Regions from separate parts of the Homo sapiens genome. Here all the other regions are reported to be linked to region 2. Evidence: microRNA targets listed by miRTarBase, many of them from high-throughput screens and not tested one by one. Region 2 holds a microRNA gene; each other region holds the end of a gene's coding sequence.

Region 1 (5,900 bases), not on the chromosome of region 2:
ACATATTTATGGGGTGCATGCAATATTTTGGACACAGGTGTATGATGTGTCACAATCACATCAGGGTAATTGGGGTGTCCATCACCTTGAATGGCTTGCTTAACCTCATCAAGCCAATGTCCCTGGCAGATCTGATTGAGCTGAGCAAGGGTCAGCCTGGCAGGTTTCAGAGCATTGAGTGTTTAATCCACTTGGCGGTAAGCCCAGCCGCAATTGGGCCTGCACTGCTTTCACCAGGAACCACCAGCCCTGTGACCTGCCCCTTTTCCTGGCCTCCCTTTTGTCATCCCTGATGGGAAACCAGACCTCAGCAACTTGATCTTGCCTCTGACTCCTACTCAGAACAAACATCTCTAGATGTTGGCTGAATTTCTGTGGGCACCAGCAGGAGAGTCTGCTCCCATCTGTGCAGAGACCTTGGAGATCTGATTTCTGCCTCACCTGAACTTCACCCACTTTCAGCTCCAACGTCCTGTTTTCAACCAATGCCAGTTCAAGAGCATTTTCCCCGATGCAAGCTGCGTGAGGGAGCCCAAGTTTAGGGGCTGGCAAGCGGAGGTGGCACTTGTCAAGTCTCTACTACGTGCCAGGTACTCTCGATGGACTGTACCGTTAACATCTCTCAGCAACTCTTTGAAATATTTATTACTCCAGCTGAGGAAACTGATACTCAGTGAGGCTAAATGACTTGGCCAAGTTCCCATAGCTAGAAAGTGTCAGTCAGAATTTGAATGCTGGACTTAATTGAAATTTTGGCTCGCGTTCTTTTCAGGGCAGATGCTTTCCAACACACCATATAGCCACTTACAGAGTGTTTTATTTCAATGGGGTCAGCCAGGGGTCAGGGGTGGGGCAGCACAATTAGCTAGATCAGGTGTACTAATATTTATGAAAACTTTCCTCCTGTATGTTCATCTCAGTCTGTTAGGCTTGTCTGCATATAAATGAAGATCAACCAGTTTAAGGATGGAAATTAGGCTTCTTTTTAACCGCCACCCATGACTGACTGGTGGTGGCTCCCTGGAACCCTGGGTTGAGAGGGACTCAGAGGCTGCTTGTAGGTTCTGTAGGAAAGATGCCGTATTGATTAGTGATGTCTGCCAGGAGCACAGGGAGAATGGCAAGTGTCTCCAGCTGTTCCTGTGAGGCTTCTAAGGACATAATTAGCACCTCTCTCCACCTAGTGGCAGCTAGCTAAATTGCCACCAGGAAAAACTGATCAACTTTTTGGGTAGTGGTTTTCAAAGTCATCATGAAGGTGGAAATCACAAGGCATCAACCAGGAAATATTTTCTTTTTCTTTTTTTTTTTTTTTTTGAGGCGGCGTCTTACTCTGTCACCCAGGTTGGAGTACAGTGGTATGATCTCAGCTCACTGCAACCTCCACCTCCCAGGTTCAAGCTATTCTCCTGTTTCAGCCTCCCGAGTAGCTGGCACTACAGGTGCACGCCACCACACCTGGCTAATTTTTGTATTTTTAGTAGAGACAGGGTTTCACCCTGTTGGCCAGACTGGTCTCGAACTCTTGACCTCAGGTGATTCACCCACCTCGGCCTCCCAAAGTGCTGGGATTATAAGCATGAGCTGCTGTGCCCGGCCAGAAAATATTTTCAACTATACACCTTATCCTCAGGGTTTAGCAGAATCTGTGGGGAAAGAAATCTCCCAAGTGAGACTAACATGCCAGCTTTTGCTTTTGAGGGCACAAACAGGAAATGGTCTCAAAGAAAAGAGAATTATCTGTGGGACAGAATTGATGGCTCCTTCTTGAAGTAACCATTACTGATAAATTGCTTAAGCACTTTGGGGATGGATTATAGTGTGATTAAGAATTCTAGAGGCCGGGTGTAGTGGCTCACACCTGTAATCCCAAAACTTTGAGTAGCCAAGGCAAGTGGATCACCTGAGGTCAGGAGTTTGAGACCAGCCTGACCAACATGGCGAAACCCTGCCTCTACTAAAAATATAAAAATTAGCCGGGTGTGGCGGCAAGCACCTGTAGTCCCAGCTACTCGGGAGGCTGAGGCAGGAGAATCACTTGAACCCGGGAGGTGGAGGTTGCAGTGAGCAGAGATTGTGCCACTGTACTCCAGCCTGAGGGACAGAGGGAGACTCCATAATAAAAAAAAAAAAAAAAAAGATTTTTTTTTTCTGGAGAGTCAGTTGCTGACTCAGTTCACCTTCAGGACTATCGAGAATCTCCAATGAGAGAATCATTGTAGGTTGGAAGGTGCTACAATGCAAGGGAGGCATTTGATGGTCCATGCTCATCGATCAGTGTGTGAAGAACACTGGATTCTGGGAGTCCAACGATCGAACTCCTTTCCTGGTATTGCCTTTGTTTAACACTGGACATGGCATTTTCTTCTCTGGACCTTGGTTTCTTCATCTGTCTAAAAAGTGAGTTGATTGAACTAGGTTGTGGCTCAATTGTATGTTCTCTTTTAGCTTTGGCAATTTCTGATTCTGCAACCACCTGGGACGTTTCCCAGGTCTTGTAGCAGCAGGAGGAGGATGAGGATGTTGCCCTCCTGTTTGGTAGGCACCAGCAAAAAGTATTCTTCTAGAAGGGTTTGGAGTCAGCCAAGTTACCTTAGGCCCACCTGCCCAAGATAAAATCCACCATAAAGCAAACTCCTCGTGGGCAGAGAACACATCTGTCGCCAGTGCCTGGAACATAGTAGATGCTCATTAAGTACTGACTATCAGAATAGCATATGTCCTGGTGGGGAGGAGGACTTCGCAGAAACCAGAAAGGAAAACTGCAGACCACTCGTTTTCTTGGATGCTCCTACTTTATTTTTGGCTACATCATCACAAAGAAAGATGCTGGGTGGTTGTGCATGCACCGGAGGACGTGTGTGTATTCTAGGCAGGGAGGTGGTTACATTTGTCGGGGACAGCGGGCACCCAGACTAGGGGCACTGTGAGCTTGCTGCATGCTGATTCCAGCGCCTACACCAGCATCAGGCTTGGGCGACACAGCCAGCATGCTGTCTCCTAAGGGGAAACTGTGGTGAGGGAGGTGGGCTGAGAGTAGGTGCCACCAGGGACTAATGGGGAAAGATAAGGTCAAAAGGAAAGATGGCAGCCAGGAAGCTGTTGGCCACCTTGGGGAAGGTGAAGAGCTCGATGTTTAGAAAATGGTTATTCAAGGCAAGAAATGAGTCCTCCCATGAATTGTGCAGGGAGCTGAGGGTGGAGGGCGTTGAAAAGTTAAGAGATGTGATTTGGGGAAAGTGAGAGTTTGAGTATCTGTCTGATGCTTCTGTAGAGAATGTCAGGGGTTTGGGATGACTGGGAGTGATTTTCATGAGGGAAGACTTCATCAAAATTGGGAAAATCGAACCTTTCTCACAGGGCATTGAAGATTGCCTGACTTCAACCTCAAATTTGTAATGTTTGCCCACATTGCCTTTTCCTCCTTTATAAAATAATTTTTTTTATAGGAAGAAAGTGAAAGATTGATGATGAGCCCAAAGCCTTTGGCATCAGGCCTGTCTCTCTCTACTGTTCCATAGCCATGATATTATTTGATTCTCCCAGGAAGCTTAGTAACGAGAGTGCAGGAGACAGAGAGACAGACAAAGAGAGACAGAGAGACTGGAGGGGGTTCTGAGTGAGAGATGGGATGCAAAAGAGTCAATGAAACAGAGTCAAGGGCATTGGGGAGGAGGGTAGCTTGTTCATTTACCTAAGAGCGGAGAAAGGAGAAAGGCTGGAGGCTTTGGCTGAGGCTTCCTCAGACCCATGGCCCTGGTCTTCTAAATGCCTCCGTGCCCACCCGGGGAGCCCACGGATGAGAGAGTCCTCTATGGGGCATCTACACAGCTTGAGGGATGCTGCCATGCACTCAGGGCAGTGCCAGCCATTGGCCCAAGCCCTGGGAATGTCTGGTTCTGCCAACGGGAGGAGTGGGTCAGTTAAGAAGCGTGGGCCCAAGTGGAATCTCAGGTTTGGGCCAGTTTCTCAGTTTCCTGGTCAGGCTGGTGAGAGCAAGGGGGTGAGGCTAGGTTAACATACACTTTTTTTGCTGTTGTTTTTGCGGTGTTACTGCTTTAGAGAGAGAGAAAGGCAAAGGGAAGAAAGGCAGGGAGAGAAAGGAGAGGGGAGAGGCTGAGAAAGAGAGAATCTACTATCATGGAAGGGAAAGAAGAGGGAGGAGGAGAAAAGGTGACAGAGGAAGGGTTTTTTGTTGTTGTCGTTTGTTTTTGTTTTGCTAGGAAGCACACAGGTGACATTCGGAAAGAGGAGAGCGTCCAAGCCCCTGGTGAATTCTGTGCATTTGCATCCTGGTGCACTTGGAGCAGGGAGGGTGTGTTACTGAACACAGCAGTCTGTTTTCCTGGCAATCAGGGTGTACATCTCAGGGGGCAGTGGGAGCCCGGAGGCTCTATTTGTGCCCCAATGCTTCTCTCACAGCATTGTCCGGGTCTGCTGACAACTGGGGATATACAGAGACACAACACAGGGAATGAAAGGGTGTGTGTGTGTGTGTGTGTGTGTGTGTGTACATGTGTGTGTTCAAGGCTAGGAGGGTCTAAAAACAGTCCTAAATGATGAAGAACCTTTGTAATTTACCCAAACTGAGAGGTTATTAAATGATCAACCTCTTTGTAAACGTCTCCCCAACCCCATCCCCATTGCTCCATCCCAGGGATGAGAGAGGGGCTGTATTCAGAGCCCACATCCCAGCATCAGGGAGGAGGGAGTCTTTGGCAGCAGTGCCCAACGTGACGGGGGCTCAAAGGCAGGCTCAGGGAGATCAGCAGGGTATGGGGGGAGGTAGGCATAGAGAAGAGAGATCAGGGTGCGGTGGGCAGCTAGAGCAGGCTGGGGGGGACCCGGGACATGGAGATGGGGACCTGGGCACTAGCCTAATCACTTGACACGTGGTTCTCATTCTGTAGCTGGTGCCAGCGCTCTATCTTCTTGTCTTTATTTTTCAGACACTCGTACCAGTGTTTTAAGCGCTCTCCCTTGGCAGAGATCCCCAGCTGGCAGCCTCCTGGAGGATAAATGGGAAGATAGGAGCAGGTGGTCAGAATAGAGGTCGTTCTAGACCCAAATGTGTAGTTGGGGAAAAAACTGCACCAAGCAGTGACCCCCAGCAACCTGGGATCCATACTCTATAGAGAGTTGTTATAACGTTGCTGCTGTTGTTGTTATTATTATTACGGTCCTTCTCTGCCTCAAGAACCTGCAATGGCTCCCTACTGTTCCACTGAGTCATAATTTCACTGTCTATTTTTAAAGGCTTTCTACAAATCACCATTCTACTCACTGAAACTTATCTCCCACTACTTCTGGGAACTCATTGTCTATTTCCAAAAAGGTTCATCATCCTGCTCAATCCTGTCTTTACCCCTTAGCTCAGGCTCTGTCCCTTGCCTGGAGTCCCCACCCCCCTGCTTCATCTTTAATTGATTTTCTTCCTCATGATTCAAACAGGAACTAAAAAATTAAAAATTTTATCCTGGACATGCAAATAAATTAAGAATTCTTTTGCACCCTGCTTTCTGCAGAGAACGCAAATCTCTCCTGTGATTTAATTACCCCACTGGAGGTGATTTGTTCAACAAATAATCAAGTTTTGTAAGGCTTTTCATGTAAAGACATCCCCAAATTGGACCAAGGTCAAGATCATGGGTCTCAATTTAGCATTTGAACAATGAGGTTGCCAAAAGAATAGCAATGACCTCAACTCTCTGTAGCCCTGGATAAGGCTCTCCTGTTCTGGGGAGGACAGAAGAGGGCGTTTTCTCTGGAGTTAGGAACACTCACCGATGTAATCATTGGACTTGCCGATGTCATAGTCCCAGACTGAAATGTCCAGTGACTTCTTTGCCAGGTCACTGTGTTTGATGTCATAGAAAAACTCCTGAATACAACAGAGGAAG
Region 2 (5,900 bases):
GCTACTAGTCCTTGTATGCTCCAGAAGTTGCTTTATACTTCAAGTACTTTGTTCAAAATTAAAAACAGAAAACCACTAACTGTACATACACATTGTGTGCAACCTCACCGTTTTCCAGTTAATTTACTGACCTATATCCAAAACTTACATTGTTCAGTTTCTTAGGCAAGCATGGAATAACCTTCAAAGTTAAACCATCAATATGTATAATTGTAGCCTTACGAGATTCTCAAAAACAAATCTGTATCATTAACAGTATCCCAAAGCATTCTATCAAAGATTTGCCTAACAAATCTCTTTCCCCAAATTGAGTAAGAATTTTTACTCAATTACCATAAAAAGGACTTTATGAAAGTCACAATTCTCAGCTCCATGTTTACCACCTGCAGTAGTAGCAACAGTTTTATACTGAACCATCCATAACCACCAACCCAAATTTTTAACCAGTATAAGATATCTGTCTGTGAGTCAGCTGGCTGGGGATGAATGAGGTGCAATCTGGTCACTTTCTGAGACACAGTAAACTGAATCCCTAACCCGCTATAAGCACCCAGCTGTCATCAACTTAAATTTTAGTCTGTGGTTAAGTACCAATTTATTTGCAGGGCAAAGTGAGCCTCAGAAAAATTCTACTGTGTTGTTAGATTGCCTTAAGGCCACCAAGTCATAGCTTACTACCATAATTTGTAGAGTTTTCATCAATTCCAGTGAACTATATAGTGATTCTTTGTAATTCTTACCAGTTATCACCCACATTCTTGAAATGCTGCTTTAACATCTAACTTCAAATAATCTGTTATCTTATTTCTACGTTCTATCTTGTTGATTATTCTCAAAGAGAAATGTAGTGCTTTTGTACCTTTTCTATCAAACTTACAGAGTACATAAATCTACCAACAAGTTATTTAGATAGAAGTTACCACCCTTCTCCATAAACACGGAAACAGGCTCTCCTCCATCAGGGTTTCTTTATAAAGGAAAAATGTTTAAGTAGCATCAACCCCATATGAGGATTCTACCTGTATTTTGCCACACAGAGATTTCAAACTAACTACATGTAAGGAAAATTATTTCCAAAATCTAACGTTTATTTCAGTTGAAATGCAAAATAGTGCAAGTATTACTAATTTGTAAGGCTGCCCAGAAAAATTAACAGTTTTTCTCTTGTGAAAACAGACTTCCATGATGTGGGGGTGGGGGCACCCACTGTTATGCCCTTAGAAACATTAAGACCCTCACGTAAAAGGACTAGGAAATTAAGTTTGTAATTAAGAAAAATCAAAGAAAGATAGAGATAACTGCACACTGGGAAAAATAAATACTAGCCTTTGAAATTTACATTGCATGCTGCACCATTACATATTAATACAAACCACCCTAGACTCATGCCTTAGTGCTATATTATTACTAGTTTCCCCTTTAAAATTATGTGTGGAAATTACTATCCTGTTTCATAAAGGTTACTGGCTTGGCCAATTAATACCAGCTCTAATTTTTATTGGATTAAAATACATCACTTCAGATATGTAAACTTTCTTCTATACATTACCACACACAAATCATTTGAGTATATTAAAACTAAAAAATCGACCTACTGCCATCAGAAAGAAGTCTGAGAAATAGCTTCATTTATTTTCAATATTATACCCTAAAAGAAACTTGTACCGACCCTTAAATCCTTATCCTAAACACTTGGCACCAGATGTGTTTCAGAATAATTTTCTAGGTTTTAGTAAGATTATTACGGTTTACATTGTGTTCATTATTGGATATCCTCAATAGGGCTCTTGATTAACATCGCATAATTGAACACTGCCAGCATATTACACGAGTATAGTTTATTATTACTATAAGGTTAACACAATCTACTTGAAATTTACCTACAGCCAGAAAAACATGCTATTTTTCTAGCTAGGAATACAAAAGGGTGCAATTACTACTACCCATAGAAATATTCAGTAGTCCTCATGTGAAAACAGACTTCCATGCTACTAGGGAGGGGGAGAAAAAGAGAAACCACCCACTGTTTTGTTCTTTCTTCCTTAAATAGCATTCGGAGAAATCTAACCTACAAAGGCAGCAGACAGAAAACAAGGTCACAATTTGGCCAACGATGGCATGGGCTTTATCTCCCCTAAATCTTGGTAGTATCCCAGAACGCAGCGTTCTAGTCGCTACCTAGTTAAGAAAAAGGGGTTGACTGTTTTCTGAAGCCACGCCCTAAATGAAGTGTCCCGCATACAGTAAGGACAACAAATTTTAAATGTCCCTACTCGCTTTCCCCCAATCTACTTTAATTGGGGGGAAGGGGACAGGGACATTTAAAATTTGTCTAATTTTACTGATCGATTACAGCCACCATGTTCTAGTACGGTGCTTCAGGACTCAAACGCAAAAGTTTCTCAAAGCCCAAAATTTGGCCAGTGTATACTAGCAGAAAATGATGCCCAAAGTCCACTCAAGTTCTTAATCGGCCTTAAAATGAAACTCCTTTAATAATACCCTCAATTGTATGACTGCGGCTAACCTATAATGGCCCAAATCACCATACCCAGTAAACATTTTCGAATCCCCATCAAGCTCATTTTTCGGGGGGTCGCCTCCAAAGCTTATTCTTATACCACTCACTTCAAAAACAAGAAAAAGAAAAGTGTTCCTCTGTGTTAACAGATGAAAATGACCATTTGACCATTCTAAACCACAAACTAGTAAAAGCTGCATCACCCCGTCAGCGACAGGGAAAGTGTGTCACGGTTGCTAAAGGAAAAAGGACGGCACCAGGTGGGTTTTCCTGGACTGGTTCAAAGAACTGGAACTGAGACCAGCTACTGAACGGCCTAATTACTTCGGCCACGGCCGAGAAAAAAGTGACGGGATGGTCACTCCGCGTCGCCGAGGACCCCATGACCCCCAAGTTGCGCCGGTTCCTACCCAGGTACTAAATGCGGCCCGGTGGGCACTCTTCCCTCACCCTCCGCGCACACCGAACAAAGGCCCAACCGGCCCGGCGCGGCCAGGCACCCAACCATGTCCGACTGCGCGGGGCGCCAGGTGGCCGCGACCCCAAACCCCGGCCCTCGCCCTCCGGCCCCGGGCTCCGCCCCCCAGGCCCCGGCCCCCACCCCCGACCCTACTATGCCTGGGTCGCCCCGCCCGCGGGGGCCCCGGCTGAGGGAGCCGGCTCGGGGTCTAAGAAAGGCGCCCACCGGTACTCGTAGTGTTCGTCGAAGTACTTGTCCGAGTAGTAGATCTGCTTGTGGGCCATCCTGCTGGCGCGCTGCAGAAAATGAAACGAGAGCGCGAAGAGCGGGCGCAGCAGACAAAACCACGTCCAGCCCAGGCAACAACTCGCCGGAGACTAACGACCGCAGTCCCAACGATCCGGATTTGAATCCGACAGCCCGCCGCCGATTGGACAGCAGCGCCGACCAATCACCTTCTGCGGAAGTCGGCCGGCTGCCAGCCTATCGTCGCCGCCGCCTCGCAAAGTCCGCTTCCTGGGTCAGCCAATCAGAGATCTGTTGCGAGGTTGCCCGAGGGAAGATAGGTACGTCACGGGGGTGGCAGGGCCCTTAACGGGCAGGGGCGTGGCCAGAGGAGGGCGAAGTCGGGACGTTAAGGGCCGCAGAGCGCGTGCGCAGGAACGTGGAAAGTTCCAGGACACGGAACCGTTGGGACGGAGGACCTGAAGGTGGAGTGAGGTATCACGGGGTTTGGTGATGACGTAGTCGGTCGAGGCCGGAAGCGTGGGCCACAGGGCTTTGAGCGGAAGCTGTCGACCTTGCACGGTGATGGCGCTCCTCGTGATCCCTTGTATCCCCTCAGGCTCGAGCCAGGAGCCTAGGTCCACTTTGAAAAGTAGTAAAAGGCAGAAAGGTTCTGCGGTGTGAGGGGGAGGGCGGCTTCGTGGTCGGCTGGGTCGGGGGAGCGCCGGGCGGCCGCGGCGTGGCTGTGTCCGGGGCTGCCCTGCGCAGCCGGCCGTTTCGCCGCCTGGTGCACTTGCTGAGCTTCCGGCCTGGCCCGTCGCGGGGCTCCTGGCGCCCCCCTAGACGACTGTGTGGAGAATGGAGCCTGCGGAGCCACGCGTAGAGAGAGGCCCGGAGCCGGCGCGGTGGCGGCGGGCGCCAGTGGTCCCAGCCACTCGGGAGGCCGAGGTGGAGTGTCGCTTGAGCCCAGGAGTTCCAGACAGGCCTGAGCAACAGAGCCAGACCCCGTCTCCACAAAGAAAGAAACAAATGGGCCAGAGACCCAGAATGCTTTCTGTAGCCTAACCTAATGTTCAAAACCAGGGCAGACCCAAGCCATGGAAAGCTTGAGGGAATAAAATAATATTCTGCTGCGGCCAAGAATAACAATGCTAATTCCTGGATAAGGGGATTTAAAATGATGTTTAACAACTTCTGGTCTTTTAATATTGACCCAAGTTTAAAAACATGTTCATATAAAAAAGTTACTGGAAGAAATTTATAAATGTAACTGGTGGTTATTTTTAGATGACAGAATTAAAAGTGATCTTTTTGGTATTTTTTCCACAACGAGCACGTGTCATTTTTATGTTAATTTCATTTTATGCGAAATGCTCCAGCGCAGTACAGGCTAGTGGGTTCAGGGTGGCTGTGACTAAGTAATGTAGATGGGGTACCTTAGACAAAGTTTCCAGACTAGAGGCTGGAAGTAAGAGGTCCGGGTGCCCTTTTCCACACTGCAGACCACGGACTTTTCCGGTTTCTGAACAAGTGAGACAGGCCGGCTAAGGACATTTATAATCTCCATGGGTGAGGGCCCCACCCTCATGACCATCTAATCTTGATTACCTCCCGAAGGCCCCACCTCCTAACTTCCTAATACAATCACTTCTTGGGGGAAGAGGGTGTTTGGAATTCCACCCCCCGCCCTTTTTTTTTTTTGGAGACAGTCTCACTCTGCTGCTCAGGCTGGAGTGCAGTGGTGTGATCTTGGCTCACTGCGACCTCCCCCTCCCAGGTTCAAGCCATTCTGCCTCAGCCTCCAGAGCAGCTGGGATTACAGGCCCAGCTAGTTTTTGTATTTTTAGTAGAAACGGGTTTTCATCATTTTGGCCAGGCTGGTCTCGAACTCCTGACCTCAAGTGAACTGCCCGCCTTGGCCTCGCAAAGTGCTGGGATCGTCAGAGGCAAGTGAACCAGAGCACCTTCATCTTAAACAGGAGCTGGGTAAGATGAGCCTAAAACCTACTGGGCTGCATTCCCAGACAGTTAAGGCATTCTAAGTCACAGGATGAAATGGGAGGTCAGCACAAAATACAGGTCATAAAGACCTTGTTGATGAAACAGGTTGCAGCAAAGGAGCCAGCCAAAACCCACCAAAACCAAAATGGCGAAGAGAGTGACTTTGGTCCTCACTGTTACACTCCCACCAGTGCCATGACAGTTTAGAAATGCCATGGCAACATCAGGAAGTTACCCTACATGGTCTAAAAAGGGGAGGCATGAATAATACACCCCTCGTTTAGCATATAAGCAAAAAATAACTATAAAAATGGGCAACCAGCAGCCCTCGGCTGTTCTGTCTATGGAGTAGCCATCCTTTTATTCCTTTACTTTCTTAATAAACTTACTTTCATTTTGCACAGTGGACTCACCCTGAATTCTTTCTTGCACGAGATCCAAGAATTCTCCCTTGGGATCTGGACTGGACCCCTTTCCTGTAACAGAATTACAGGTATGAGCCACAACACCCGGCCTGGAATTTCCACGCATGATTTGGTGGCTGGGAGCAGACACAAACATTCGTTCATACATGATAGAATCCTTCAGGTCTCAGATTAAGCATTTCATCTTCTGAAAGGCCTTCCTTAATCAACTTCTCTACAGAAAGTTCTTCAATTTCCCCATTATGCCCTTGCCACCGACTCCAGTGGG
Region 3 (5,900 bases), not on the chromosome of region 2:
ATTCCTTGACTCGTAGCCCCTTCCTCCATCTTCAAAGCCAACAATGTGGCATGTTCAGATCTCTCTCTGACTCTGCTTCCTGTCTCCATGGTCACGTCACCTTCCATGACTAACTCTCCTGCCTCCTCCTTTTCCTTATAAGGATCCCTGTGATTATATCACAGCCACCCAGATAATTCAGGGTAATCTCTCCATCTCGTGTCCTTACCCACATCTGCAGAGTCCCTATTGCCATGGAAGGCAGCATATTCACAGCTCTGAGGGCTAGGATGTGGACGTCCTTGAGGGGCCATTCTGCAGGGTCTCTCGCTCCTCCATTCTCTTTTCACATTTCACCCCGATCCCAGCCCACTGGCTGTCTCAGGGGCTGGAAGTTGAAGAGCTCATTCTCCCCTTGGAGGATTTCGACGTGTTGGTCCTCAGCTTGAAATGTCCCTTAGCTCGTCCGTTAGGCCCCCAGTAAACATTTCCTGAATAAATGATATCTCTCAGCATGCAGATTCATGTGAACAATGCTCTAATTTCTTAAGAAAATGGGGATTCTGTGAATTAATAGGATGTTTTACAGAAATGGTATGGAGAATGGGACTGAAGAGACAATGCTAGTTTAGAAGATAACTTTAGTCCTTCCAGTGCCACTAACAGTAAATCCATGTTGCTGAAAATGTTACCCAGAAGTGTTTATCATGTATAAGTTATGTGGTTTCAGTGTGTGATTTGCACTTGCTTTTGGTAGATTGCAGGACAAACAACGAGTAAATGTATCGAGTGGATGGGGGGAGTAGGCTACACCAAAGATTACCCTGTGGAGAAATACTTCCGAGATGCAAAGATTGGTAAATAGATTTTTTTTTTTTACATTTTATTTTGTTTTATTTGCCTCTGTAGGTATTTTGGCTGTTTTATTTGTCGTTTTTTTCCTAGGTAAAAGCAATTTTAATTTCTTCAGTATATGTTTGGTGGCTCTATTTATGTGGCTGGATTTTTTTCTTACCTCGTCCTTCAAAAAAAATTGTTCTATATTTTTAAAAAATATCAAATTGCCTTTTTAAATGCCTCAACAGGCTTTTTAGTAAAACTGCCACAAATAACAGTCTGAGCTTATGCATCAATTGTTGAAGAATCAAAATCTTCAACTTTTGTTTACACCTTTAGTCAGTTTAATACTGATCCTGGACATCGAGAAACCAAATGGAAAATTGTCATCTCTTAGTCAAAATTACTGTGAAATAGTACCATATTCAGGGGACATGAAGTGATGTGACTAGTAACTGTTTTATAGCAAGCGCAGAGGTGATGTTTATAGAGCTATTTCTTGTCTTAACCATGCGCCAACTCCTCATTGTTCCTTCTGCTTCCTTTTGCTTAAGGTACGATATATGAAGGAGCTTCCAACATCCAGTTGAACACCATTGCAAAGCATATCGATGCAGAATACTGACGTCTATAGGAGTGGGACCCCTCCCTGGTGTCACTGCTGTAAAATTTTAAACGGTTGTGTCTTGTTGGGAGTAAGTGCCTTGCGTGGGAATAAACTTCCACAGCATTCGAATATTTTAATGAAGCCCTTAGTCAGGGTCCTGGTGTTGGCCTTTTTGGTTTTCTCTTTTCAGGCTGTTTAACTTAGGCACAGGAGATCCACTTTTAAACTTGGGAAATAAGCACCTGTATTTTTTTCCAAAACTGTTTTTAAAGCTGTATACGCATACATATATATATTTTTACTCTGTCTTACTCTGTCACCCAGGCTAGAGTGCAGTGGCGCGATCTCAGCTCACTGCAGCCTTGACCTCCTGGGTTCCAGTGATTCTCATGCCTCATCCTCCCAAGTAGCTGGAACTACAGGTGTGCACCACCATGCCTGGTTCATTTTTGTGTTTTTAGTAGAGATGGGGTTTTACCATATTGCCCAGGCTGGTCTTCTGGCTTCTGGATATCGCCCACCTTGGCCTCCCAAAGTGCTGGGATTACAGGGATGAGCCACCGTGCCTGGCTGGGTATTTATATTATCATTCTAGTTTCAGAGTATACAGAAGTTTCATCCCATCATTTGGAAAAATAAAGGCATCTGAAGTACAATATTACTTATAGAAATAGTTTATATTCCTATTAAATCTTAATCTTGTGGCATCAGGGAAATATTTGTTACATAGTAGGCAATTTTTATCCAGTACTTTATAGATTCAACTCTAAGTTGCAAGCGAAGTCAAAACTGATGAAAATTTATTTAGAAAAATCTAAAAATTCTGGTTTTAAATATGAGAATCAGTGGAAAATAAGGGTATAATTTTGTAGGTCATATGATTGAAGAAAATATTATTTTAACAATGTAAAGCAATATGATTTGTTACTATAATTAACCTGTATAAAAGATACATTTTATGGTGGTTTCAGTAGGTCATTTTAAAAACCAATGTGCATTAGTTTTCAAGTATAAGGTTTAAGTAATTTGGTTTAATAATCAGAAAATATTCAATACAGTGTTGGATATTCTGTCATGCACTATTTTTCAGTTGACAATTTCTGTATTTTAATTGAATACTGTTTCTTCAGTCATGGTTATTGCACTTTATCCTGAATAATAATTCAGAAATTGGGTTTTGGTTCAGTGATTCTCAAGAAAAAGATCTCTTGCCCATTAAGAAGTGTATCAAAATCTCATAAGGAATGAGGGAGAGAAGGGGGCTGTAGAGTTTGAAAAAGCATATTCAATATTAAAATAGTTTTATATTTGGGAAGGCAAAAATGAATCTATTGTTTTGCAATATAGGTTATAAACAGGCAAAATGCAATAAAATATATATCTGGTTGTATTAGTCTGTTTTCACGCTGCTGATAAAGACATACCTGAGACCAGGAAGAAAAAGAGGTTTAATTGGACTTACAGTTCCACATGACTGGGGAGGCCTCAGAATCATGGTGGGAGGCAAAAAGCACTTCTTACATGGCGGCAGCAAGAGAAAATGAGAAAGAAGCAAAAGTGGAAACCCCTAATAAACCTATCAGATCTTGTGAGACTTACTATCACGAGAATAGCACAGGAAAGACTGGCCCCCATGATTCAATTACCTCCCCCGGGTCCCTCCCACAACACATGGGAATTCTGAGAGATACCATTTAAGTTGAGATTTCAGTGGGGACACAGCCAAACCATATCATTCTACCCCTGGCACCTCCAAATCTCATGTCCTCACATTTCAAAACCAATCATGCCTTCCCAACAGTCCCCCAAAGTCTTAACTCATTTCAGCATTAACCCAAAAGTCCGCAGTCCAAAGTTTCATCTGAGACAAGGCAAGTCCCTTCCACTTATGAACCTGTAAAATCAAAAGTAAACTAGTTACTTCCTAGATACAATGGGGGTACAGGTATTGGGTAAATACAGCCATTCCAAATGGGAGAAATTGGCCAACACAAAAGGGTAACAGGGCCCATGCAAGTCCAAAATTCAGCAGGGCAGTCAAATTTTAAACCTCCAAAATGATCACCTTTGACTCCACGTCTCACAATCATCTCTCTCAAGTTCGAAGTTCCACAAATCTCTAAGGCAAGGGAAAGATGCTGCCAGTCTCTTTGCTAAAACACAGCAAGAGTCACCTTTACTCCAGTTCCCAAAAAGTTTTTCATCTCCATCTGAGACCACCTCAGCCTGAATTTTATTGTCAATATTGCTATCAGCATTTTGGGCAAAGCCATTCAGCAAGTATCTAGGAAGTTCCAAACTTTCCCACATTTTCCTGTCTTCTTCTGAGCCCTTCAAACTGTTCCAACCTCTGCCTGTTACCCAGTTCCAAACTTGCTTTCATATTTTTGGCTATCTTTTCAGCAATGCCCCACTCTACTGTTAGCAGTTTACTGTATTAGTCTGTTTTCACACTGCTGATAAAGACATTCCTCAAGATTGTGAAGAAAAAGAGGTTTAATTGGACTTACAGTTCCACATGGCCGGGGAGGCCTCAGAATCATGGCGGGAGGTGAAAAGCACTTCGTACATGGTGGTGGCAAGAGAAAATGAAGAAGAAGCAAAAGTGGAAACCCCTGATAAACCCATCAGATCTCATGAGACTTACTATCATGAGAATAGCACAGGAAAGACTGGCCCCCCTGATTCGATGACCTCCCCCTGGGTCCCTCCCACAACATGTGGGAATTCCAGAAGATAAATTCAAGTTGCAATTTCAGTGGGGACATAGCCAAACCATATCACTGGTGATGCCACTTCTTCAGTATTAGGGATTCTCAGTCAGAAGAGACCCCCTGTGTGGCCTGAGTCCCCTCAGGAGGAAGGTGGACAACAGAGAAATGAGAGTTTTGATATTTTCTGAAAGAGGAACATGTGTTAGAGATGAAGAATCTTCCAAGGCTCATGCAGTTGCTTAGAATAATCATTACTGTTATATGAGAAACATTTTAGTAATTTAATAAAAGGATAATGTTTATTTAAAAAACCTGACTTTTCCAGAGTAATTTTGTTTTGCACATTCATGTTTATTGAAGTGGACTAATTTCTATAATGCAAATCAGAGTTAAATATTAAAAATTGTGTAAATACAATTGACATAGGAATTACATTAAAATATTAGGAAGAAACAAGGACAAATTTAGACCTTGAATCCGAAGAGATAAAGCTTACTTGACTTTCAAATGGAGAGATGATGAAAACCCACTCATTCACTCTTTCAGAACAAAAAGACAGTCATCTGATAAGAGTATGACATGGATGAAATGCCCTACAGGGGCCTTGGACATCTTTAATTTCTGCGATTATGTGAAAGAGGTGGACTTTACAGATAATGGAGCAGAAGCCAACATTAGTAAAAGGAATCCCAACTTCTTCCCATAGAATTAGAAACATGTGAAAGTACAATAAACTTCTTGTTCAAATTACCAGCATCAGAGAGCTTCCCATTTGCATCTAGACCTTGAATTTATATTTATTGATCAAGTTCTAATTTGTATGTATATTTTGTGCATATTCACCAATAACAGTTAAAATTAATTATGTGTTATAGTTAATATATGCACCTACCTTCTTCCGTTAGTGCATCAGTAAATGTGTTATTTTGTCATTTTTCCAAAGAGAGTGTTGTAGGTTTTCCCTGTAGTTCTTCCTTTATAGCTTTTCTTCTGATAACCATGACTTCAGGAGCTTTAAAACTATCTATCTTGCATTTGTGTCTGGCGGAGAACTAGCCATCAGCCTCCTGAAGCCTGCCATCATTGTTAATTTGAGGACTGGGCTGTCTTGGGGCTCAGAAGATAAAGAACTATTTGAGCAGATGTGTGTGGGTGGCACTGGATTCCACCCAACTGCCAAGTTAGTATTGTTAGAGATTTCATTTTACAACACAAAAATAAGCCTGTGTCAAAGATTTTAAAATCATGGAAAGTTAAAATCTAGAAAGACCTTAGAGAACCAGCCAACCAACTCTCTCATTTTAAAAGTGAAGGATTCATAGCACAGATTACTTGCCTAAGATCATCCAGGAACGAAGACAAGAATCCAAATGTACTTGGGGACAAGAATTAGTCCCCAAATTCAGTGTTCTTCCTAGTATTAAACATTGCCCCTTTCGACAAATTTTGGATTTCATTCTTGTTATATTTCAGTACTCTTGCTGATTTATTTTAGGTTTAACTGGTAAAGAATGAACATTTCAGAAGTGTTAGGATTAGTCAGTGTCATCGCTTATGTATATGAATCACTTGCCAAAGACACTGGCTCTCCTCAGCTGTAACCAGCATGTCAAATGTGAAGATTATTGTGTGGGATCCTTTGGTTTCATTGTTATGATGTATTTTATAAATGTACTAGTTATATCCTTGTTTATGTATTTTTGCTGATCTTTCATAAAGCAGAATGGTATGTATCGGATTGTTTTAATGTTATATATTGGATT
Region 4 (5,744 bases), not on the chromosome of region 2:
GGCACCGGGGGCGTGGTGGTGTTTGAAGGCTGGTTGGCTTCACGAATGGGTGGTGCATGTCCACGCTAGGGGAGGCGCCCCTCTGACTGGGACAGCCAGGCAGATCTCCCAGGAGGAAGAGGCACTTCCATCAGGAGTGGCATGGTTAGCAAACCCACTTCATCAACTACAATCCAGCCCCGGACGGGGCCCAGGTTTCACTAAACTCCACACCTTCTGTGCGTTCCCGTCCCCTGGGGAGCGTATACCTGGGAGAGTAATTTCTCCGTGCCTTCCTTGCAGATTTACCCGGACGAAAGCCATTACTTTACCAGCTCCAGCCTCAAACAGCATCTGTACCGGTCCATCATCAACTTCTTCGTGGAATGCTTCAGGATCCAGGACAAACTGCTGACAGTCACAGCGAAAGAGGACGAGGAGGAGGACTAAGCTCAGGTCGCTCTAAGCACAAACGTGGCTCTTTCTACAACCAGATGCAACCGAGGGATTTCCCTGCCCTCCCTCTTCCCTCGGAGGGGCGGGGCGGGGCGGGGCCGGGTGTTCCATAGCATGTGTGTCTCGGATGCGGAAGGCAGTTTTGCTTGGGAAACAAGCTCCTTCCCCGGGGTCATCACTCACGGCCTCCATGGCACCAGGGACAACGCTGTCCCCGCAGCAGCGCCTCCTCCCGGCGCCCGAGAGACCGGCACGCCACGGCCCCTCCCCCAAGGAACAGAGCAAAGGATGGTGGCCGCAGGCCCCACGCGAGCCCACAGGACACCGGCCCCTAGATTCCAGCCACCAAGCGGAAGCATGAGACCCGCCCACACTAGCCTCTGTGTTCCCGTTAGGGACATCACACCCTGTCTCACGTCGCAGTGCCATGGACGCAGCAGTTACAGCACCATTGTTTTAGCAGTGCGTGTTCATATATGGGCTTGCTACTTCCTGTAATGAGGACGTTCAACATGGTGAGGGGCTACAAGAAAACGCTTTTCTGTACAGAGTCTTACTGTAGCTACGCTAATGGTTAACCTGATAGAATTAACTCGTATTTTTCTATGGTTTTAACCTGATGCTCCACTGTCTCCGTCATGGGGTTGTTTTGCTGTTTGGGGTTGGGCCTTGTTTCCCTTTCCTTTCTCCAGTCCACGTGTAGACTTTGCGCTTGATGAAGAAGCAGATCGGAAGTAACTGCTCCCTCCTCAAGGTTGTCTTCAGACGTCTTGGGGACGTTCCTAAACACTGAGGGGGAAGACAGCCAATAGCACCCATTAAAAGAAATACCTAAATAAAACCTCTCTCCCACTCAGCTATGCTAGGGCTTGGCTGTAGGTGTGCACTGTCTATTTACATCCGTCCTTACAACCATCCTTGTCCTCCTTGGTACCGTATCAAGCTCTTTCCCATGACATTTGGTTTAAAAAAAAAAAAAAAAAAAAAAAAAAAACAGAAAAAAGACAAAGCGTCAACTCCACCCACAGGCCCGCTGTGTGTGCTCGGGCCACGGGAGTCCTGAGGGTTCTGTGGGCCTGCGCGCATCCCTCTCCCATCGTGGGGGTGGCTCCGTGACCTTCCTGCCACGAGCAGGAGGTTGATGATGTGCTACGTTAGCCTTGTAAGATACACCCCCACCAAATGTGCAGCCGGTGTTCCCAGTGTATATTTCATTCTCTTGTATATAAAGGAAGCAATGTGTGTCAGGCCTCTGTGCAGTCAACCCAGCCTCCTCCCGCCAGTGCTAACCCCGTGTTGAGCCTGCATGCTGACACTGTGGCCGATCTGGACTCTAGAAGTGCTAGTTTGAAATATATCCATTACTGTCATTTCCTTTTGAGCTTGTGGACAAGCTGAATGTCAGGACTGACTTCGCCAGCTCCCAGCCCTGCGGGGGTGTCCTTGGCATCCCATCAGCAGAGGAGATGCGTCCCTGTTGCATTTTGGCGTTTGGGGCTTTGGGTTTATCCACATGAGCTCTGAACGTCCGTTATAGTTAGGGTGATTGGAAGGTCTCCATCACTGGGTGTTTTAAAGGTGATTCACCACCATTTGTGAAAGGACCAACGTGCTGATAAACAGGACCGATCCGAGTGCTACATGACTGTGCGTTTGCTATTTCAATGGGCCTGAACGACTACAAAGCCAGCTAGGTCTGGAAGGGGAAGCCAGCTCTGGCCACGACATCTGGTCGGAGGGAAGTGGGGATGTGGCATGGTAGCGTCTGTTCATCCATGGAATAAAACATTATTTTACCACTCGGATTGTTCCTTTCTTGCTCATCCTCCCCCATCGCACCTTAGAAAGTGTGCTAGGCTTCAGGAGACTTTCAGAGAACCCACTGGGCCCCTCCAAGACGGATGCATGGCCACAAGAGCCTGTTGTGTGCCAAATGAAGGTTGCATCCATGGTCGCAGCAGTCTGGGTAGTAGAGAAGGACGCAACCAGTCGAATATATCAAAGCCCCAAATCAGTCCAAGAAAACAAATTTGAATTTTGTCTTGGGAGTCTTAGGGTGGAGACGCAGAGCTATTCCCTAACCCTGAGAGTGAAATTGATTCTCAGTGGAAGCCATAGCATTGCCCACTAGAAAACTTTAATTTTTTTTTCTTTTTTTTTGTAGAGATGGGGTTTTGCCATGTTGCCCAGGCTGGTCTTGAACCCCTGGCCTCAAGTGATCCTCCTGCCTCGGCCTCCCAAAGTGCTGGGATTATAGGCGTGAGCCACCATGCCTGGCCTAGAAAACTGTAGAAAAATGTCTCCATCTGTTGGAAATGTATCCACTCATTTGCTGTTATCAATGTCGATGTAAACATGGCCCAGCCTGAAAGCCAAGGGATTGATTTAATTAATTAATTAATACTTCCCGACCATGGAGCAGCTGCTGCCTCAGAGATGGGGGATCAGTCCCATCAGCCCCGCTGAATTAGCTGATTCTTGTCACCCTCTGGATCAAGAATCATGGAAAGAATGGGGTGGGTGGAGAGGAGGAGTTAAAAAGGAAAAAGAAAGAATCAAATGTGAAAGGAGATTTTTAAAAACCAGACACAGCAGAGGCCATCTAAGTCTAACATACTCATTCCCCCCAAACAGTATCTCTGTGAGCCACCCTGGCCCTCTCCCTGGTCTCGCCCCAGAAGGAGGCCAGTGCCCCCATCCCAGCTTTCCATCCCTGAGTCCTTCCCCCGGACCAGGGCTTGATTTGTGGATAGGAGTTGACGGTTTGCTCAAGAAGGTGCATTTTCCCACTTTGGAAAACACTGAGTGTGGAATGACGAGCTAGGCCTGGCCCTGAGAACAAGTGTTGGCCGCAACCAGCAGGGACCACTCCGGTTCCCACTTGGAGAAGCTTTGGTCTTTCCCCAGCTCTAGAATGGCTTTGGGAAGACGCCGGCGTGGCCTCACCAGGCCGCCGCGGCTGTGGTTGCTGTGCCTGCCTGGCTCAAATCCCCCACTGCAGCCTTCTCTGTGTTTTCAAACTGCACGTGCGTGGCACAGTAGAGTGCTACTTTTATTTCCGTTTTAAATTAGGTTTTTGTTTTTTTTTTTTTTTGAGATGGTATGTCGCTCTGTCACCAGGCTGGAGTGCAGTGGCGCAATCTCAGCTCACTGCAACTTCTGACTCCCTGGTTCAAGTGACTCTCCTGCCTCAGCCTCCCGAGTAGCTGGGATTACAGGCAAGCGCCACCACACCCAGCTAATTTTTTGCATTTTTAGTAGAGACGGAGTTTCACCATGTTAGCTAGGATGGTCTTGATCTCCTGACCTCGTGATCCGCCCACCTCAGCCTCCCAAAGTGCTGGGATTACAGGCGTGAGCCACCGCACCTGGCCTAAATTAGTTTTAATACTGAACTTCCAACCAGGCAGCTATGGAATTCCCAAAGCACCATCAGGTTTCTCAGCACCCAGCTCCAGGCCCACAGCCCAACTCCTGGGCTGCCTGGGGCATCTCTGAGGCCATGGGCCATCAGGTTCACAAAGACATGCACGTGGGGGGACCTCCATCCCCACTGGCCTGAAAACATGCTCCTTTCCCTCCTGCCTGACCCAACCCACCCAGAAGCAGTGATTTAAGGGATTGATTGTTTTCGGGAAGCCCCTATTAAAATCCCCTCTGTCACAGAAGAGCCCGGAAGGACATTTTCAGAAGCTCCCTTGGTGCTCCCTCCTGGTACACAGCTGCGTGTTCGTAGACGGGCAGCTACGCCGAGACGGGCGCCTGGTGAGAGCCTGGATGTGCCCACGGACAAGGGCCAGGCCATAAATCAGGGCAGGGCTCCAACCTGCACCTGCAGACACTGCCCCGGGGCCAGGCATGGCCTCTGCAGCAGTTGGTCCCAGAGGTCAGGATTTGAGCAGTAAATACCAGCTTCCCTTATTCTCAGCCCTGCTTCTAACTGAGGACCAACTGGGAAAAGCCAGATACCCACAACCAATCTCCTGGGACGCCCTGCTTCTGAGCGCCTCCAGCTTCCCACTCCAGCAGCCTCCAGCCAGAGCATCCCTGGAGCCTCCTTTTCTCCACCGTGAAGCTCACCCACCCCCCCGTCCGAACGCAGGTAAGAGCAGTGAGCCCCTTGCTGGAGAAAGCTCTGGATAAGCAGCCTCTGCTCACACTCATTTTAGTACAGTCTTAGCCTTAGCGGCCATAGTGAAGTCCCATAGACTGGGGGCTTAAATAGTAGGACTTGATTTCTCACAGTTCTAGAGCCCAGAAGTCTAAGATCATGGGGCCAGCACACTCGGTTCCTGGTGAGGGTTCTCTCCCTGGTTTACTATTGATCGTCTTCTCCCTCTGTCTGCACGTGGCAGAGTGAGAAGGAGCGAGAGGGAGCAAGAGCATGAGAAGAGACTTCTCTGATGTTTCTTCTTACAAGGCACAAATCCCATCATGGGGGACACACACTTATGACCTCTTCTAACCCTAATCACTTCCCAGATGCTCCATCTCTAGCCATCACACCGGGGCTTAGGGCTTCAACAGTGAATTTGGGGAAACATAACATTCAGTCTGTCACAGGTGGTCTTTGTTTATTTTCACACTGGCATTCCAGGGAGAAAATAGGTGTTCTTTTATTTCAGAGAAGAGTTGCTGAGGGGCCTCTGGGGACTCTGAGGCCAGGGAAGGAGGGAGGCAGAGGAGGCGGACAGAGCCTCAGGAGACTGACCTCCCTGCTGGGGCTCCCCAGGGGTCCAGACAGGCAGACGGGCAGCCTTCCAGGGCTGCTCCCGAAGGCCTGGCTTCCCCTCTGCAAACCACAAGCTCCAAAATGGTCATTCTCCATCTGAACTCAGCCAGTGACACTATACAGATAGGGAATCTGAAGCCCAGAGAAGGCAAGGAAGTTGTCCAAAACCACGCAGGAAACAGTCACAGTCCTGCATTCCTTCCGCCCTTTTTTCCTGCTGTGTTTTCTTCAATGATAAACTCACAAGTCCTGGCCTCAGGGCCCCGGGAGTAGTAGCCAGCTGCCTTTCTCCACAGAGCTGGGCTGGGGGTGTCTAGCATGGTCCCTTGGGGTGCTCGTCCTCACCCGTGTGGGTGCCCCAAGCACAGTCTCCAGCCAACATGGAGCCTGGCTCAGTGGACATGGGCGTCAAGATCCAGGCTCTGAGAAAACCACAGAGCTATGGGTCCTTCCAATTCCTATCCAGCCAGGGATCCTTTCTAGAAATTCTCTTTTTTTTTTCCAACTTTTTTTATTTTATTTTTAATTATTATACTTTAAGTTCTAGGGTACATGTGCACAACGTGCAGGTTTGTTA
Region 5 (5,900 bases), not on the chromosome of region 2:
TTAATTTTTAGTAGAGACATAGTCTTGCTGGGTTCCCCAGGCTGGTCTCAAACTCTGGGCTCAAGCGATTCTCCCACCTCGGCCTCCCAGAATGCTAGTCAGGCTCAGGCATGAGCCACCACACCTGTCCAAACAGGACATTTTGGAGTTAAATGGCACGAATCTTTAAGACAGAACAGATTTCAAGTAAATAGTTACAATTGCTGTGGGTTGCTTTAGACTATTTCCCTAGGCCCATCTGGAATACTGTGCTGAAAAAATTTGAGGAATAGTGGATGTAAAAAAAAGTAGTTACATAGGAAGCTGTGAGTTCTTGTCCCAGCTTCTACCCACAACTGGCCAAAATTTCTCAGTAGCTCCAATTTCTCACCTTTTAAAATGAGGAAAAATTGGACTGACTAATCTTTAAGGTTCATTCAGCTCTTAAAAATTTATTATTTTTGCTTACCTGATTCCCAGACTGGGTTTTATAGCTGGCAGCTAGTGTTTGGAACATTGTCAACTTCTTTGTCCACATGATGTTTCACATTCATATATGTGGACTGTTTTGAATAGATTAATAATGCTATTGTTTCTTTGTAGTACTCACTTTAAACAAATCTTTTCTGCTTGTTTCTCACTGTATCCTTTTTATATTCATCCTGGATGCCACCTCTTTACTGCCTCTTCACCTTTTCCTCCTTCTCATTTCTATTCTTCCTTTTATCTGTTTATCTAGCATACAACTGATACTTCTCTCTTGTTATATTGTGTCTTTTTACATTCAAAGACTATAAAGTCTATAATTAATGTACATGATTTTGGCCATATTAGAAGTTTGATGTTACTATAATGTGACTGGTTTCAATAAGCTACACATTAGAAGCCATCCTTTTTTATCCTGAGCTTACACTTACAGACTGATAAATGGGATGTGCTCAGTTATAATTAGAAGAGTGTAAAGATATCAGTAATGTTTAATTTTATTTCTTTCCTACACAGAAGTTGTAAGAACAAGACTACGTGAAGAGGGAACAAAATACAGATCTTTTTTTCAGACTCTATCTTTGCTTGTTCAAGAAGAAGGTTATGGGTCTCTTTATCGTGGTCTGACAACTCATCTAGTGAGACAGATTCCAAACACAGCCATTATGATGGCCACCTATGAATTGGTGGTTTACCTACTCAATGGATAGCAGCACGAGGACTGCTGTACTGCAAAAAAAGAAGACCAAAAGATTACAGTGGACCATGGGATACAGAAGCCAGCATGGCAGACAGAAGAAAAATAGTTTGGGAACATGTAACTATTCTAAGTGGAAGTTTTGTTGTAGGAATTATAGTAATCACACCACATTACTTGGCCTTTCGGTAATGTGAAAAAAAAAAAAAACCTCAGAGCCTCCAAGGAAATGCCTTTAGAAGCACTCCTCTCTCAAAATTGCCATTTTCTCTACCATGTCCCCCAGACACAGTTGGGTTTTGTTGATTTATGGCAGTCTTCTAAACAAAGCCATCCTTAATTTTACATACTGTATTGTAACTATCCAAAGATAGTATTGGCAGTCATAAATTTATAACTTCTGGCCTTTGTTTAATTCCAGTAAAATAACAGCAATGACAATGAGATCGTCAGTATTATTTTCACATTTCCCTGAGAGGACCTGGCACAATATTTTAAATTTAATTATTTGGCAGTAGTCACTGTTTTTGACAACCAATGAAATAGCGTCTAAATATCTTGTATATTTTTTAGCATCAAAATGTTTTGGTTTCCACTGCTGACAGGTGCTTGTTGTTTAGCCTAATGTGGATATTTAAATTGTTAACATACCAAACACACATGGTAATAGTTTGGGACAAAATAACTAGTAAAATGTTGATTTCTCGGCTTTTTCACTGACTGCGGCATGTCCTCGTGTCTTCTCTGATTTTGTGGTACATGAATGAATGCATTTATCTTTTTAGTGACTTACTAGTTACGAACTTGAATTATCACCTCTTTGTCATACTTAAGTATCATTTACATAAAGTGTAAAAGATTTTTTCACTTTTGAATCTTTACCTACTTGCTTTCACATTAAGAATTTGAACTTTTGAGTTTTTTCCAGGTCTATATATAATAGATTACATTTATTTTGTAAAGAAAATAGTAATTTAAAGTTTTGCCATTTTAAGGTGACAATATTTGGGACAGTATAAATATTATAGACAAGGGCCCCCTTGCTGTCTGCTTTAGCAGGTAGTGACATTAATTGACTTATAGTTTTGTGTAAATGAACAAACTGCTTTTGACAAGAAATTTATTCTGTCCTAGTTTCCTGCGTGGTAAATCATAGAAAGATTCAAGTTCATTTGGGTTAAATGTGCTAATAGGATGTAGCTTTTAAATTCTGCTATTGAGTCAGCTGTACCTTTTAATACTTTAAATGTGTTATTTGTATGGCCCTTATAAAGGTGTTTGCTGTAATTCTGTTAAAAGACTTCGCCTATGCCATACTGGTGTATAAAAACTGCCGCAATTGGACGCCGGTGTGGTACTCATTTCAGTATACCTGAACTGTACATTTTGTGCAATGGCTTTATCTAAAAGAATGACGCTTCGTGAAAGCACTTTGTGGCCTTTTTTGGGGGGGAGGGTGAGAGAGTAGGAGAGAATACCATGTTAAGATTAAAAAAAAAAACAAAAACATTGGTCACGTATTAGGCAGAAACAGTGTTCATAACATTTTTCTGGGTTTTAAATATGTTGTTTCGGATATCCTTAATATAAATGTTTTAGGTATTCTGTGTACCCTGTCGTACCCCCAACATTATAGAATATTGCAGCGTGTCATTGCAAGCTTTCTCTGCTGTCACCAGTGAAACATAGTGCCCTGTTAAATTCCCCCACTTTAACTTCCTTGTGATCAACAGTAACTGGATGTTTTTGAGGTGCTCAATTGGAATAAAAATATTCCAATCTATTTGGAGACCAAAGGCAAAATCAGTTTTCTTACCTTTGGAATTATTCGTACCTTTTATGGTAAATTTCAGCTTTGACATGTATTATGAGGAACGTACCAAAAACCGGTTTGTAACAAATCTGTAGAGAAGGTCTGAATCTATCGTGTTTGCCTTTTCAGGTGCCATTTCTACTGCCTAATACAGTGCCATTTGCCTTGTGAAGACCCATAAACATTCATTGTGTTGAATGTAAGATAGAGACTCTCCCTAGTCTTACTGATCTCAGTACCCCACAAATGATTAAGAATGATATGAAAACCAGCAGCTAAGGAACATCTTATTATTTAGTTGTAGCATATTCATAACAAGTGTCCTTCAAGGATAAACATATATTCTCTATTTGTATTTAGCAAGTAAAACTTGTGTTGACCTTTAGTGCATTATATTCAGCTTTTAACAGTATTATGTATGTACTGGAAAGCAAAGAAATCTTAGAGTCTTGGACATTGTTTATTTGTGCAACAACTAGAAAGGAGCAATGAAGTTTATTTCAGTTGTATTTTTCCCTAAGCACAATCTGCAATAGTTTATGTATGACAGAGATAATTCAAAAAGGAAAACTATATATAAAAGTTGTATATAAAGTTTGTCTCTGAAATATTTCTTTGAAGTTTTTAAAAAATCGACTCATGTTTAAAAACAAAAACACATATTCAGAGCATTGGACTTTTTTAACTTGTTTTCATCTGTTTATCATGACTTTTTTATTTCTGGTGTAGAGTCCACATTATTTAGTTTGTTGTACTTTTAAATTTCAAAGTTCAAATCTGAAGAATTAGCGTTTGTGATTTCGGGATACCATGCAGTGGTTTTAATCCCAGGAAAAAAACTATCACCAAAAGTTCGTTTGATTCTCATTATGTAACTTTGTAGAACCATCCTTTCTAGATGGGTCCACCACAGTGAATTTGTAACTTTGAAGTCAGGATAGAATATCATTAGATTATCTGTGAGATAGCATTACTATGTTAGGACCAGCAGAGTTTGGGTTGGTAAAAATAATGTTTGCTCTATTACTGGGTTACAGACATTTCAGCATTTTTAGGTTGGTTTTAAATCACTAAAAATATTTATTCGGATTTGAAGGATTTAAGTGCTAAAAATCAATCCATTTCTTGCCCTTCAATAATTGTCCATGCCTGCCTTTTGTTGTTTACATGCTCTTCTGCCCAGACTGTTAGTAATCTAGGGACCCCCTTTGGAGCTGATAAGTACAGTTCAGCCTTTTCTCCTCAAATATATAATGACTTTAACATTCCTAAGAATATAGGTATTTCTGAATGATTTAAATTTGAGGAATTTTAATACATAAAATACAATGTACAAACTTTCTGCCCACTCAGATCTCTTCTCCATCATGTACTTAGTATTTCCCATTAACCTACACACTGATTTTTATGCTACTCCTTGTAGAAACAAAATTCTGGTTTGACTCAGTTTTTGTGTTTATAAACTTTTGGAATGTGTACCCCGTTTATGTGAAGAATTATGACCTATCAGTCATAGCTAAATAGTGAACCTCAAAAGTGTTAACTTTTGACTATTCATGTGAGGTTTGGTATCTTGCATTTATGTACATGGCTGTAAATTATGTGCATTTACTCTGTATTTATGTTATCTAGCTGACTTTTACTTGAATTGTTCAAATTTTAAAAATTAAAATACGCTCATGAAAATATGGCTTTTTCTGTAATATATCAACATTTTATTGAGAACATAATCACACTTTTTTGGATTATCCTATGTGTGGAACAAAAATCCATTGCCATTTTCAGGTTAAGTTTTAGGCTCGCTTGATTCAGTCAGCAAACCTTATCTTGAGCACTTTGTATCTGTTAGATCTAGTGATGTCTGAAGGAACCCAAAGGTCAAGTAATCCAACTCCCTCATAGTGTACAAAGAAATCTTGCATATCTTCCACAGGTTTATTGACTTTTATCCAACACTTTTCATGTTTTAATTTCAGCCTTTGTGAAAGTTGATATTAAAAATACAGAGGTGAGAACTTGTTAGAATAACCAAATGAATCCACATAATGTTAGATCAAAATACAAATGACAAAGATAAAATGCTATGTAGTGCCTACCCTCTTTACATTTTGTCTATTTTATTTAAGTTTTTCTGTATTGTAGTTAACATCAAACATTGTCCAGTCTTGAGGAAACCAGGACGAAATATATTTTGTATTTCAACATTGACATAAATCTGAAATTGTTGGTTCTACTAATAGTACTCTGCACTGAAGGCACTGGCAAAATAATGGTTAAAATTGAGCACAGGTGTTCCAAGTTGTGTGTGTGTGTTTATTACTGAACATTGGGAGCCGTGATAGGGAAGTAATTTGTGAGTTCATGATTTCTTAAGGTTCTAGTGTGACATTTATACACTGATAAAACTCAGGCAAGCAAAATGTAATTAAATGTTCCCCCTGCCCCCCCCCCCTTTTAATATATATACACGGAGCTTCACTCTTGTCACCCATGCTGGAGTGCAATGACATGATCTCAGGTCACTGCAACCTCTGCCTCCCGGGTTCAAGCGATTCTGCCTCAGCCTGACTTCCCTTCTGTTTCTTTATTTTCGCACTGTGTAGACCAGCTGACTGCCTTAATATGTATTGAATCAATTCAAGATTTATGTTCATAGAGTGCTGTGTTTATACAGTGGTGTCATGTGATTTCTTAATAGCCTATAGATCCAATAAATACAGAGGAATATTAGTTACAACTGGAGTTTTTGACTTGAGTGCTCTGAATCTTAGTCCTGTGTTTTTTTATTTACTACACTAGGTTATTCACCAGCACTTGACAATAGATAGATGTTTTAGAAACTTCGTTCTAAAGGAAAGATGGATAGAAGTTGGCTCTGAATGAAACATTAGGAAGTAATCAGGAACAGAGTTGAATACATAAGAA

Evidence for each region. The annotated mature microRNA hsa-miR-3153 reads GGGGAAAGCGAGUAGGGACAUUU and lies in region 2 at 2,262-2,284, opposite strand. An mRNA with a match to its seed (bases 2 to 7 or 8) in the 3' UTR can be bound and repressed. Matches are read on the target gene's strand: a 7mer-m8 pairs with bases 2 to 8, a 7mer-A1 pairs with bases 2 to 7 and ends in A, and an 8mer does both.
Region 1: the mRNA of RPH3A is a reported target of hsa-miR-3153. Seed matches in the 3' UTR shown: 7mer-m8 at 4,147-4,153, 7mer-A1 at 3,336-3,342, 7mer-m8 at 3,234-3,240 and 7mer-m8 at 3,060-3,066.
Region 3: the mRNA of ACADSB is a reported target of hsa-miR-3153. Seed matches in the 3' UTR shown: 8mer at 3,723-3,730.
Region 4: the mRNA of DPP6 is a reported target of hsa-miR-3153. Seed matches in the 3' UTR shown: 8mer at 1,381-1,388.
Region 5: miRTarBase lists SLC25A36 as a target of hsa-miR-3153. Seed matches in the 3' UTR shown: 7mer-A1 at 4,355-4,361.

The regions. Positions count from the first base shown.
Region 1 is chr12:112,895,758-112,901,657 of GRCh38, reverse strand. It overlaps RPH3A (rabphilin 3A), which reads right to left. Exons shown (of 22, transcript NM_001143854.2): 21 at 5,785-5,881; 22 at 2,777-5,008. The coding sequence ends at 4,878. Among named protein-coding and RNA genes, the nearest start is that of OAS1, 8.3 kb to the left of the region's middle.
Region 2 is chr9:89,308,658-89,314,557 of GRCh38, reverse strand. It overlaps MIR3153 (microRNA 3153), which reads right to left and starts at 2,333; the gene lies at 2,252-2,333. It overlaps CKS2 (CDC28 protein kinase regulatory subunit 2), which reads right to left and starts at 3,363. Exons shown (of 3, transcript NM_001827.3): 1 at 3,207-3,363. The coding sequence starts at 3,265. It overlaps LOC105376136 (a long non-coding RNA gene), which reads left to right and starts at 3,756. Exons shown (of 3, transcript XR_930101.4): 1 at 3,756-5,192; 2 at 5,612-5,700. RefSeq lists enhancers at 2,808-2,857, 3,528-3,817 and a silencer at 3,828-4,057.
Region 3 is chr10:123,052,325-123,058,224 of GRCh38, forward strand. ACADSB (acyl-CoA dehydrogenase short/branched chain) reads left to right here. Exons shown (of 11, transcript NM_001609.4): 10 at 737-836; 11 at 1,371-5,900. The coding sequence ends at 1,441. Among named protein-coding and RNA genes, the nearest start is that of ACADSB, 46 kb to the left of the region's middle.
Region 4 is chr7:154,892,052-154,897,795 of GRCh38, forward strand. It overlaps DPP6 (dipeptidyl peptidase like 6), which reads left to right. Exons shown (of 26, transcript NM_130797.4): 26 at 283-2,234. The coding sequence ends at 429. Among named protein-coding and RNA genes, the nearest start is that of PAXIP1-AS2, 34 kb to the right of the region's middle.
Region 5 is chr3:140,975,279-140,981,178 of GRCh38, forward strand. It overlaps SLC25A36 (solute carrier family 25 member 36), which reads left to right. Exons shown (of 7, transcript NM_001104647.3): 7 at 982-5,717. The coding sequence ends at 1,175. Among named protein-coding and RNA genes, the nearest start is that of SLC25A36, 36 kb to the left of the region's middle.